Regions from separate parts of the Homo sapiens genome. Here region 1 is linked to region 2. A link means that fine-mapping ties the variant in region 2 to the expression of a gene that starts in the linked region. Tissue or cell type: B cells. Region 2 holds a variant in brackets; the other region holds the start of a gene. All regions are shown on one strand. Distances are from middle to middle.

Region 1 (4,224 bases), 24 kb after region 2:
TGCTGTAGGGGAGGAGAGAGTGGCCTCCCTCTACCCTCTAAATTCCTTGGCTGGGCTCCACATTAAATTTACATAAGGCAGATTAACAAGAGAAAAACCATGTGTAACTAAGACCTATGCATGGGAATCCCACAAAATACAAGACTGGATGAAGGCTCAGATGAATAAAGCTCATATAACATCCTACAAGGGACAGGAAACATTCCTTCAGAAAGGAATAGGGCTTGGGTCAGGTGTGGTGGTTCACGCCTGTAATCCCAGCACTTTGGGAGCCTGAGGCGGGTGGATCATGAGGTCAGGAGTTCAAGACCAGCCTGGTGAACATGGCGAAACCCCACCTCTACTAAAAATACAAAAATTAGCCAGGCACGGTGGTGTGCACCTATAGTCCCAGCTACTCAGGAGGCTGAGGCAGGAGAATTGCTTGAACCCAGGAGGCTGAGGCTGTGGTGAGCCAAGATCACGCCACTGCACTCCAGCCTGGGCAACAGAACAAGATTCCTCAAAATAAACAAAACAAAGAAACAAAACAACAAAAAACAAACAAAAAAACATGAAAATCAGCTGGGTGTCGTGGCGTGTGCCTGTAATCCCAGCTACTTGGGAGGCTGAGGTAGGAGAATTGCTTGAACCCAGGATGCAGAGATTGCAGTGAGCCGAGATGGCACCACTGCATTCCAGCCTGGACAACAGAGCAAGACTGTCTCAAAAAAAAGAAAAGAAAAAAGAAAAAGAAAGAAAAGAAAAGAAAAAAAGGAATAGAGGCTTGGGATCCTGGGGAGGTGGTACACAAGTTAAGGGAGAGTGAGGGGAGAGAGGGTAAGGTGAATGAAGCTTGTCTTCTTATGCGGATAAAATTTCTCAGGTAAGAAAAGTTAGCTCTGAGCAGCCCTCCGCCTGATACTAATACTTTACCAATGGAGATTTTCCTTTTCTTTTCTGTTTTTGAGACAGGGTCTCACTTTGTTTCCCAGGCTGGAGTGCAGTGGTGCCATCATGGATCACTGCAGCCTCCATTTCCCTGGCTCAAGCCATCCTCCCACCTCAGCCTCCCGAGTAGCTGGGACTACAAGGTGTGCACCACCACGACTGGCTAATTTTTAATTTTTTTGTAGAGACGGGGGTTTCCCTATGTTGCCCAGGCTGGCTTGAATTCCTGGGCTCAAGTGATCCTCCCGCCTCGGCCTCCCAAATTGCTGGGATTGCAGGAGTGAGCCACAGTGCCAGGCCTGGAGATTTTCTTTATAGATAGAAATCATTTTACAAAAGGACAGCTTTTCAGATCTACTCCTGTGCCTGCAGTTTCTAAGAATAATCCCTTCAAAATATGGCGAAGAAGTATATTTTGGGGTGGCACACGCTGGTCTCCCATAGTCACATTTTGGGTGTGTGTCCTGAGCCCCAACACTGGTCACCTCGCAATGGCGCTTGGGGTCCCTGGGTGCCTAGAGCTGCAGGTTACCCCCTCTTCTTCTCCTGCTCTCAGCCTTTCTCCCGCTCCTGCTGAAATTCTTTCCTGCGTGAAGGCGGAGCGCTTAAAGGCGCCTAGGACCTTTATTTCGTTGTTTTCCTTTGCATAAAAAGAAAACTTGTTTTGTAGAAGGGCAAGCAAGGTGCAGCTTCCAGAGGCACCTGGGATGATGCCCCTCTAGCGGTAGGCGAACTGGGGAGTGTGGGCGGCGGGGGAAGGCGAGGCCCTGGAGGACCTGTTGTTTTTCCTGTTGCAAGTGAAAAGGAAACAAAGTGGGAAGTGGAGTGTGCGGGTTGGCGGCAGGCGGGGCGCCCCGGCGCGCCCCGCCTCCCTCCCTCGAGGCTCACTCGCGCCCAGCGCAGTCGCTCCGAGCGGCCGCGAGCAGAGCCGCCCAGCCCTGCCAGCTGCGCCGGGACGGTAAGCGATCGCCGCTGGCTGCGTCAGGGGAGGTGGGAAGAGGACCGCGGCCAGGGGCTTTGGGAGCTGCGGCTGCGCTCGGGGGCGCGGGGCTGGCTGGCGGGCGTCTCTCCGGCACACACAGCCCGTGCGCCCTGGCCCTGGGCGCCTCCCCGAGTCTAGCGAGCCGGGTCCTGGGAGCCCCGGGGGCCGGGCTGCTGGGACCTGGGCGGGGGCTGCCCTAGAGGCCCGGGGCCGTCCCCCGTGGGCCCGCCGAGAGGGGCGTGCGCAGCTCCCCGGCGCCTGCACTGCGCGCCTTGCCCGCCTGGCCCGGCAGCGGGGTTTCAGCTGCGCTCACAGCGGCGGTGCGGCCTCCGGTGCGCCGGCTGAGGCGCGAGGATACTGGAAGCGCTCAGCGCGTGCGCCCGCTCCGAGCGCTGACTAGAGGACCAGGGGCCTCCTCTGTACGGCAGCGGGGTCCACAGAGAGCGCGCTGGTGATGTCGCCCGAGTGCCCTGGCGCGGAGAGAGGGCTGCGCACAGTTCGCCGGCGCCCGGGTCCTGTGCGCCCTTCCCAGCCTGGGCAAGTGGGGAGCGGGGCTGCAGAGGGGCCGGGGTGGAAGTTTTCGGGGCTTCCTCCCGGCTCGTGGACCCGCGCCCCGCCTCCCAGTCCCGGGCCTCCCGCGTTGCTCGCCGCGTTTGCTGCAGCGGCGCAGGCGAGATCAGCTCCGGATCTGCGGCCGAGCCGGGGTTACGCCGGCAAAACCGCCCCCAGCTTTGCATTTCCGGACTTTTTAAAAAAATACTCTTACCCGTAATTCAGCCTGAATGAGGCTTTTTAAAAAAATCGAGTTTCCTGTTTTTATTTAGGCTTCCTCATTTGCACCTCCTCCTTTGAGGTAGAGAAGAGGGGAACTGGGACGACCTTTCGTGGGCACCAGGATGGGGGCGTTGCAGGGCGGGGAGACGGGGGTCCAGAGAACCGGGGAAGGGCCGCTGGGAGGTCCCGAAAAGTGCGCTGTGGGTGGGGCGAGGGTGAAGCAGGTAGGGGCGAGATTTCCGGGGTCGCGGGTGGGGGGCGCCCTGGAGCGGCCAAGGTGCAGGGTCCTCGCGTGGCACCCTTGGGATCTGCCCAGTTTGCGGATGGAGCGCGGGGCTGATCGGGCAGGTCTCACTTGTGCAGGTGTTCCCTGGAAGGTGGGACCTGCAGATCTTGAACCCCACCAGACTCCATCAAGGGGGCTTCTTCCCGCCGATTCCTGAGAAGTCCTACCTCTGAGATGCTGGGCACAGCCGCACGTGGATGTGGGCGGGTGTGCCGTGGGTTGGAGTGGGAAGGGGCAATTATTCCTCTCTCAGGGCTCTCGGAGGGGAAGGTTTACTGCTCCCTAGGGACTTTGAAACCAAGGGCTAACCCCCTGCTCTCTTCCAGGAGAGTGGGATACCGCCCGGGTGCCTGACGGTGCCTTGGTGTTCTTGACAATTGAATGGTACCATCGGGACATTACTCCCCAAAGAACTGGTCGTTCTTACCTAGGTGATTTCAGCTGGACAACTGTAGGAGCTGAGTGGTGTTGTCTTCATTTTACAGTTAAGGAAACGAAGGCTCAGAAAAGTTAAATAACTCACCAACCCACACAGTTTACAAGTAGTTTCTCCAGGATCCCAGCTCTTTCCGACGCCAGCGCGTTTAATCATCTGGGGGTGCCGTTGCTTGCGGGGGAAGGAGAATGTCCTAGTAATTCTCTTGGGGGGGATTTGGAGGGGACGACTGTTCAGAGAGGCACCCTCTAAGATACCCTTGAGACTCCTCTGTAACACCCGCTGCTGCTGTTCACACCCCCTCCCCAATTTGATTGATGTGTTGAGTGGGGCGGAAGGTTCTTTTGGTTGATGAGGCTGCGACCAAACGCAAGGAGATATAAATAGAGCTTTCTCTTTGGCTCTCTCTAGAGCAGAAATGCCAACCCCTTAGCATTTCCATGGCCTGCTGGAGTTTCATTTCTTGATATTAGGATTCCAGCCATCTTGGCTGGTGAGAGGCCTGCTGGCGGCTTCCTGGGCTTGGTCCTCTTTTGGTGCTTTCACAGAATGATGGAAGACACTGGAGTGGGCTGGAGGAGTGCTCTTAAAACCCAGTTGTGGCTGAGAGCGGTAGCTCATACCTGTCATCCCAGTGCTTTGGGAGGCCCAGACGGGAGGATCACTTGAAGCCAGGAGTTCAAGGTTGCAGTAAGCTATTACAGTGCCACTGCGCTCCAGCCTGGGTGACAGAGCAAGAGCCCATCTCTGAGAAACATAATACAACAACCCAGTTGCCTGCTCCAGAGACAACTAAGCTAGCCTCCTTCTGAGCCC
Region 2 (4,450 bases):
AATGGGTGTAACTTGTAGCCCCTATCCCTTGACCATCTCAGACAGCAAGACTTGGCAACACCTGCATGAGGCTGCGGGCAAGAGAGAGAAGTGAACCCTGTTGGGGATTTCTGCTTTGACCACAGAGGAGAGAGGGGATAAGCTTTCGCTGAAGCAGAAAGGAAGAGTGAGCCAGGGGCAGATCCGGGTGGCCAGGGAGTCGGGTTGGGGCAGATTCCGTTTGCAGGGGCCTGCAAGTGCCTGGGTGGGGACGCCCCCAAGGCTGCTGGAGAGGGGGTCCGGGGCACAGGGTCGCAGAGCTGGGCAGGGAGGAAGGGAGGGTGAGCTCCAGGCTGAGCTGCCAGTACCAAGGCTGCGGCAAGCAGCTCTAGAACAATCTGCCACTTGCAATGCAGGAATTAAGAAAGGAGGCCAGGCGCGGTGGCTCACGCCTGTAATCTCAGCACTTTGGGAGGACGAGGCGTGGGCGGATCACCTGAGGTCAGGAGTTCAAGACCAGCCTGGCCAACATGGTGAAACCCCGTCTCTGCTAAAAATACAATTAGCTGGGTGTGGTGGCGCACGCCTGTAATCCCAGCTACTCAGGAGGCTGAGGCAGGAGGATCTCTTGAACCCAGGAGGTGGACGTTGCAGTGAGCCGAGATCGCAGCATTGCACTCCAGCCTGGGCGACGGAGAGAGACTCCGTCTCAAAAAAAAAAAAAAAAAGAAATGGGAGGTTTGGAGGGACACAAAACACAGTTTCAACAAAATGAGCTTTGCTGACTCAGTACCTGCCCCAGGACCCCAGCAGCGCCAGGGTTTACGCTCATTTCTCCATCCCTGGAGGAAGCGGGCAGGAGAGAAAGTGAATTCCGCTTTCCCAGTCCCGAGAGTGCGGCGGAAACCACGCGGCGCCGCCGGGCGGGCAGCAGGGGGAGCCGCTGAGCCAGGGGCTGAGGGTTGCAGGCGGCTGTGGCCTTGGCCAGGCATCACCACCAGGTGGCGCCGCGCGCTTCCCTGGCGCCCAACCCGGAGGCCGCGAGGTCGGGGAGCGGATGCCCGGGGGAGACGCCGGCTGGGCGACCTAAGGCTCCGGGCACCCGGGCTCCGTGGCGGCCTCTTTGCCTCCTGCAGGGGTGGCGGCAGCACAGAGGTGTGCACCTCCACAGCTGGCTTCACACCCGCGGAGATGGAAACCCGTGCACGAGGCTGAGAGCACGAGCATCCAACAGGCTGGGGTTTGAATCCCTGCGCAGCTGCCTGCACGAAGGCGTGGGCCTCGCCTCTCTCCACCTCAGACTTCGCGCCCGTCAGTGGGAGCATGACGCTGATCTCACAGGGCGGCTGTAAGGATTAAATTAGGTGACAGTGGTGATGATGATGATGATAACATGTGTACTGAGTTCTCATCCAGGTCTGGCATGGTTCTGGGCACTTTACAGATATTAACTTATGATTCTAGTTCCCTGTGATGTTGGGGTGGCTGAGGACCAGGGGCTGAGTCTCCTGCACAAAGGGAAGGGCGGCCAGGCCTCCCTTATCGCGGCCACCTTCCCTGCTGGCCCCGGGTGCTGTTGGTGCTGAGGGATGACTGCTGCCCAAAGGCAGTAGAGAGAGGAGGGGCCTTCGATGCTAAAGGCCAGGGGGCCTCTTGTTTCTAGTTCCGCAGCCCCGCAGCCCACGGCTACAGGGAACAGAGGCCGCGGGTGGCAGAGCCCCACTGTTGATCTGAGAACAATGGAGGAACCATGGAGGCAGATGGCACCTCCCGCAGGAGCCAGGGGGTTGAGGCTGCAGTGAGCTGAGATCGCGTCACTGCGATCCAGCCTGGGCGACAGAGCGAGACGCCTGTAGTCCCAGCACTTTGGGAGGCTGAGGCCAGTGGATCACCTGAGGTCACCAGTTTGAGACCAGCCTGGCCAACATGGTGAAACCCTGTCTCTACGAAAATACAAAAATTAGCTGGGCGTGGTGGCGCATTCCTGTAACCCCAGCTACTCGGGAGGTTGAGGCAGGAAAATCGCTTGAATCTGGGAGGCGGAGGTTGCAGTGAGCCAAGATTGTGCCACTGCGCTCCAGCCTGGGTGACAGAGTGAGACTCCATCTCAAAAAGAAAGAAAGAAAAATACTCTTAGCGCAGAAACATCCAGTCTCACAAAGCCCAAAGATGCCATTCTAGAATATACTAGAAGGATAGCTCAAACACTCACATTTTATGGGGGTTCACTCTGTGTCAGGCACGATTATAAGCATTTTTAC[A/G]TATATGAATTATTTATTTCCAACAGCAATTCTAAAAGTTGAGCACCGGCCTCCGCTGTGGTCTAAGCAACGCCAGAGCCTTCTGGGAAAGGCGCCCCTGCCGTGGAGGGAGGATGGGCCAGTGGTGGGTGAGTGGAGGCCACAGCTCAGCTCTGAGGTTTCAGCCTCAGTGACCGGGCAGACTGCCTTCTTTGCCTTCCTCACACGGAGGTGGCCCAGAGTTGGTGGCCCTGGTGAGATTGGTTGGAGGTGTGTTGAGTTTGAGGGCTCTGTGGAATGTTGGGGGGATTTCCAGAGGCAGCTGGAGGGGAAGAGCTGGTGGCCAGGGTGGAGGAGTGGGTGGTGAAGGAGGAGTGGGTGGTGAAGGACAGACGAGCTGCGGTCAAGACTAGGGAGACACTGGGCAGTAAGGGTGATCCCGAGGACTCAGATCCCCCAGGACCCTCGGAAGGAAAAGGTTGGGCGGTGGGAACTCCATGGGAAGGTCCCCAGAAGCCCCCGTTTGCCGTCTGTGGTCTGCCCTGGGGCAGGCAGGGCGAGGGGGCTTCATGACCCAAGTGAGGGGCGGGCCTGGGTGGGGAGTATTTTCAGCGGGTTCTCTCCCCACTGTCACCCCAGTGAGGCCACCTGAGGTCACCTCTTCCCCTGGGGGTCTCGGGCCACTGACGCCTCTAAGGACTGGGGCTGCTGTGAGTTGCGGCCCCGGGAGGAAAGGGTGAGTCTGAACTCACTTGAAGCTCTGAGTCCTGGGGCTTCAAGGCCACACCTACCTGAGTTTGTGTTGGGGGTTGGTGCCCTCCCTCTGCGGTTGTCACTGGGGTGCCTTCCCCCCAGGCTCCTTCTCCTCTTCTCCGAGAAAGAGGCCGGGGCACCTGTCCTCCCAGCTCACACATTCCAGGAACCCCCAGGGGAGGACGGTCCTCAGCAGCTGACCCTCTCCCCTTTCTTACCACCAGCCGAGAATGAGGATGTGCTGAGAAGCCAGAAACAGCACTCCCTGCCCCCCCACCCCCGCCCCCACCCACCACGCTCAGAGGCCTAGAACAAAAACATACCACAAATAGAAATCAAAGCCTGAGAAAGAATCGAGGAGCCACGACCCTGCCGTGGGAAAGGCTGTGTGACCTTGGCCAGGTCACTTCACTTCTCTGAGCGCACTTGCCTGTCTGTAAAATGGGGTCATGGTCTCAACCTTGGGGAGCTGCTGGGAGAAGGTGAGCTAAGATGTCAGAGGCAGGGTGCAGGTGTGAAGTTCGGTCTAAAACAAAGCCCCTCGCCACAGGGTACTCGCCGGACTCCCAGCTCGCCCTAAGGCTCCCCCACCCCTGCAGTCGGGCCGGGACCGCCCCTGAGCACTTCCCCGTAAGGCTGCGGTGCACGGGCTGGGGAGCACTTCTGCACCCTCGCTCTCCACTTCCTGTTTTTCTCCCCAACGAATTTTGCGCCATTACTCTTTCATGGGGTGAGGGGGGAGTGGGGGCGGAGGCGGAGGCCTGCCTGGGAAGGAAGCCCGGGGGTCAGAGGCGCCCAGGACACCACGAGGTTGGGAGAGGAGTGTGCTTTGCACTCTGCACTCTCCAGCTCAGAGTAGCTGAGGATGCTAGGGAGACTGGGGGCTGGCCCACGGGGGGAGCAGAGGAGTCCTCAGTGCGGTCCTCACTCTGAAAACAGCATTTTTCCCTAGGCTTGAGAATGCCTCCGGGATTGGACTGATCCAGGCTGGACCCACGTCTGTCTGGTGATACCAGGGGCAGAGGGACCACTCTGACAGGTGAGTCTAGCCTCCCTACCCCCCGGAGGCCGTCAGGCCTTGGATCATGGACTGCAGGGTCACTCGGTGTCAGGCCCCTCCTTGAAGGGTGTGAAGGGGCTGTTCCTGCACTGGCTAGGATGTGGACACTTGTCCTTTCTCTTCCTCGGCTACAGCCCCCTGGCCCCTGGGCAAAGCATCACCTTGTCCCTTCATGACCACATCACTCATGTATTCCTTCATTCAGCATTTCTACAGACTCACTGGTGATGCCCTCTGGGTGCCAGACACAGGGGAGCAGCCCAGGAGCCTGTCCAGATCCATGTAGAGTCCCTGCTCCCAGGAGCAGCTGAGCGAATAGGCAATCATGGTTGAGTAGACCAAGAGCTGGGAGGGGATGATATAGCCAGGAGTATGATGAAGGGCCCCTTCGGGCAAGGGGGCCAAGGCAGGTAACATC

What was found. PIP is the estimated chance that this variant, and not a neighbour inherited with it, causes the effect.
Region 1: PIK3CD starts here. The variant in region 2 is fine-mapped to the expression of PIK3CD in B cells (Schmiedel 2018, PIP 0.94).

The regions. Positions count from the first base shown.
Region 1 is chr1:9,649,915-9,654,138 of GRCh38, forward strand. It overlaps PIK3CD (phosphatidylinositol-4,5-bisphosphate 3-kinase catalytic subunit delta), which reads left to right and starts at 1,817. Exons shown (of 24, transcript NM_005026.5): 1 at 1,817-1,888. PIK3CD-AS1 (PIK3CD antisense RNA 1) reads right to left here. Exons shown (of 2, transcript NR_027045.1): 2 at 2,696-4,129. RefSeq lists a silencer at 1,730-2,619 and enhancers at 2,800-2,869, 4,010-4,059.
Region 2 is chr1:9,626,214-9,630,663 of GRCh38, forward strand. It overlaps LOC105376712 (a long non-coding RNA gene), which reads right to left and starts at 3,214. Exons shown (of 2, transcript XR_946951.2): 1 at 3,011-3,214; 2 at 2,234-2,470. It also overlaps a transcript of PIK3CD not described here. RefSeq lists enhancers at 1-97, 1,285-1,749, 4,313-4,362, 4,393-4,450 and silencers at 838-1,177, 3,703-3,812. The variant A/G (reference allele first, on the strand shown) is at 2,241.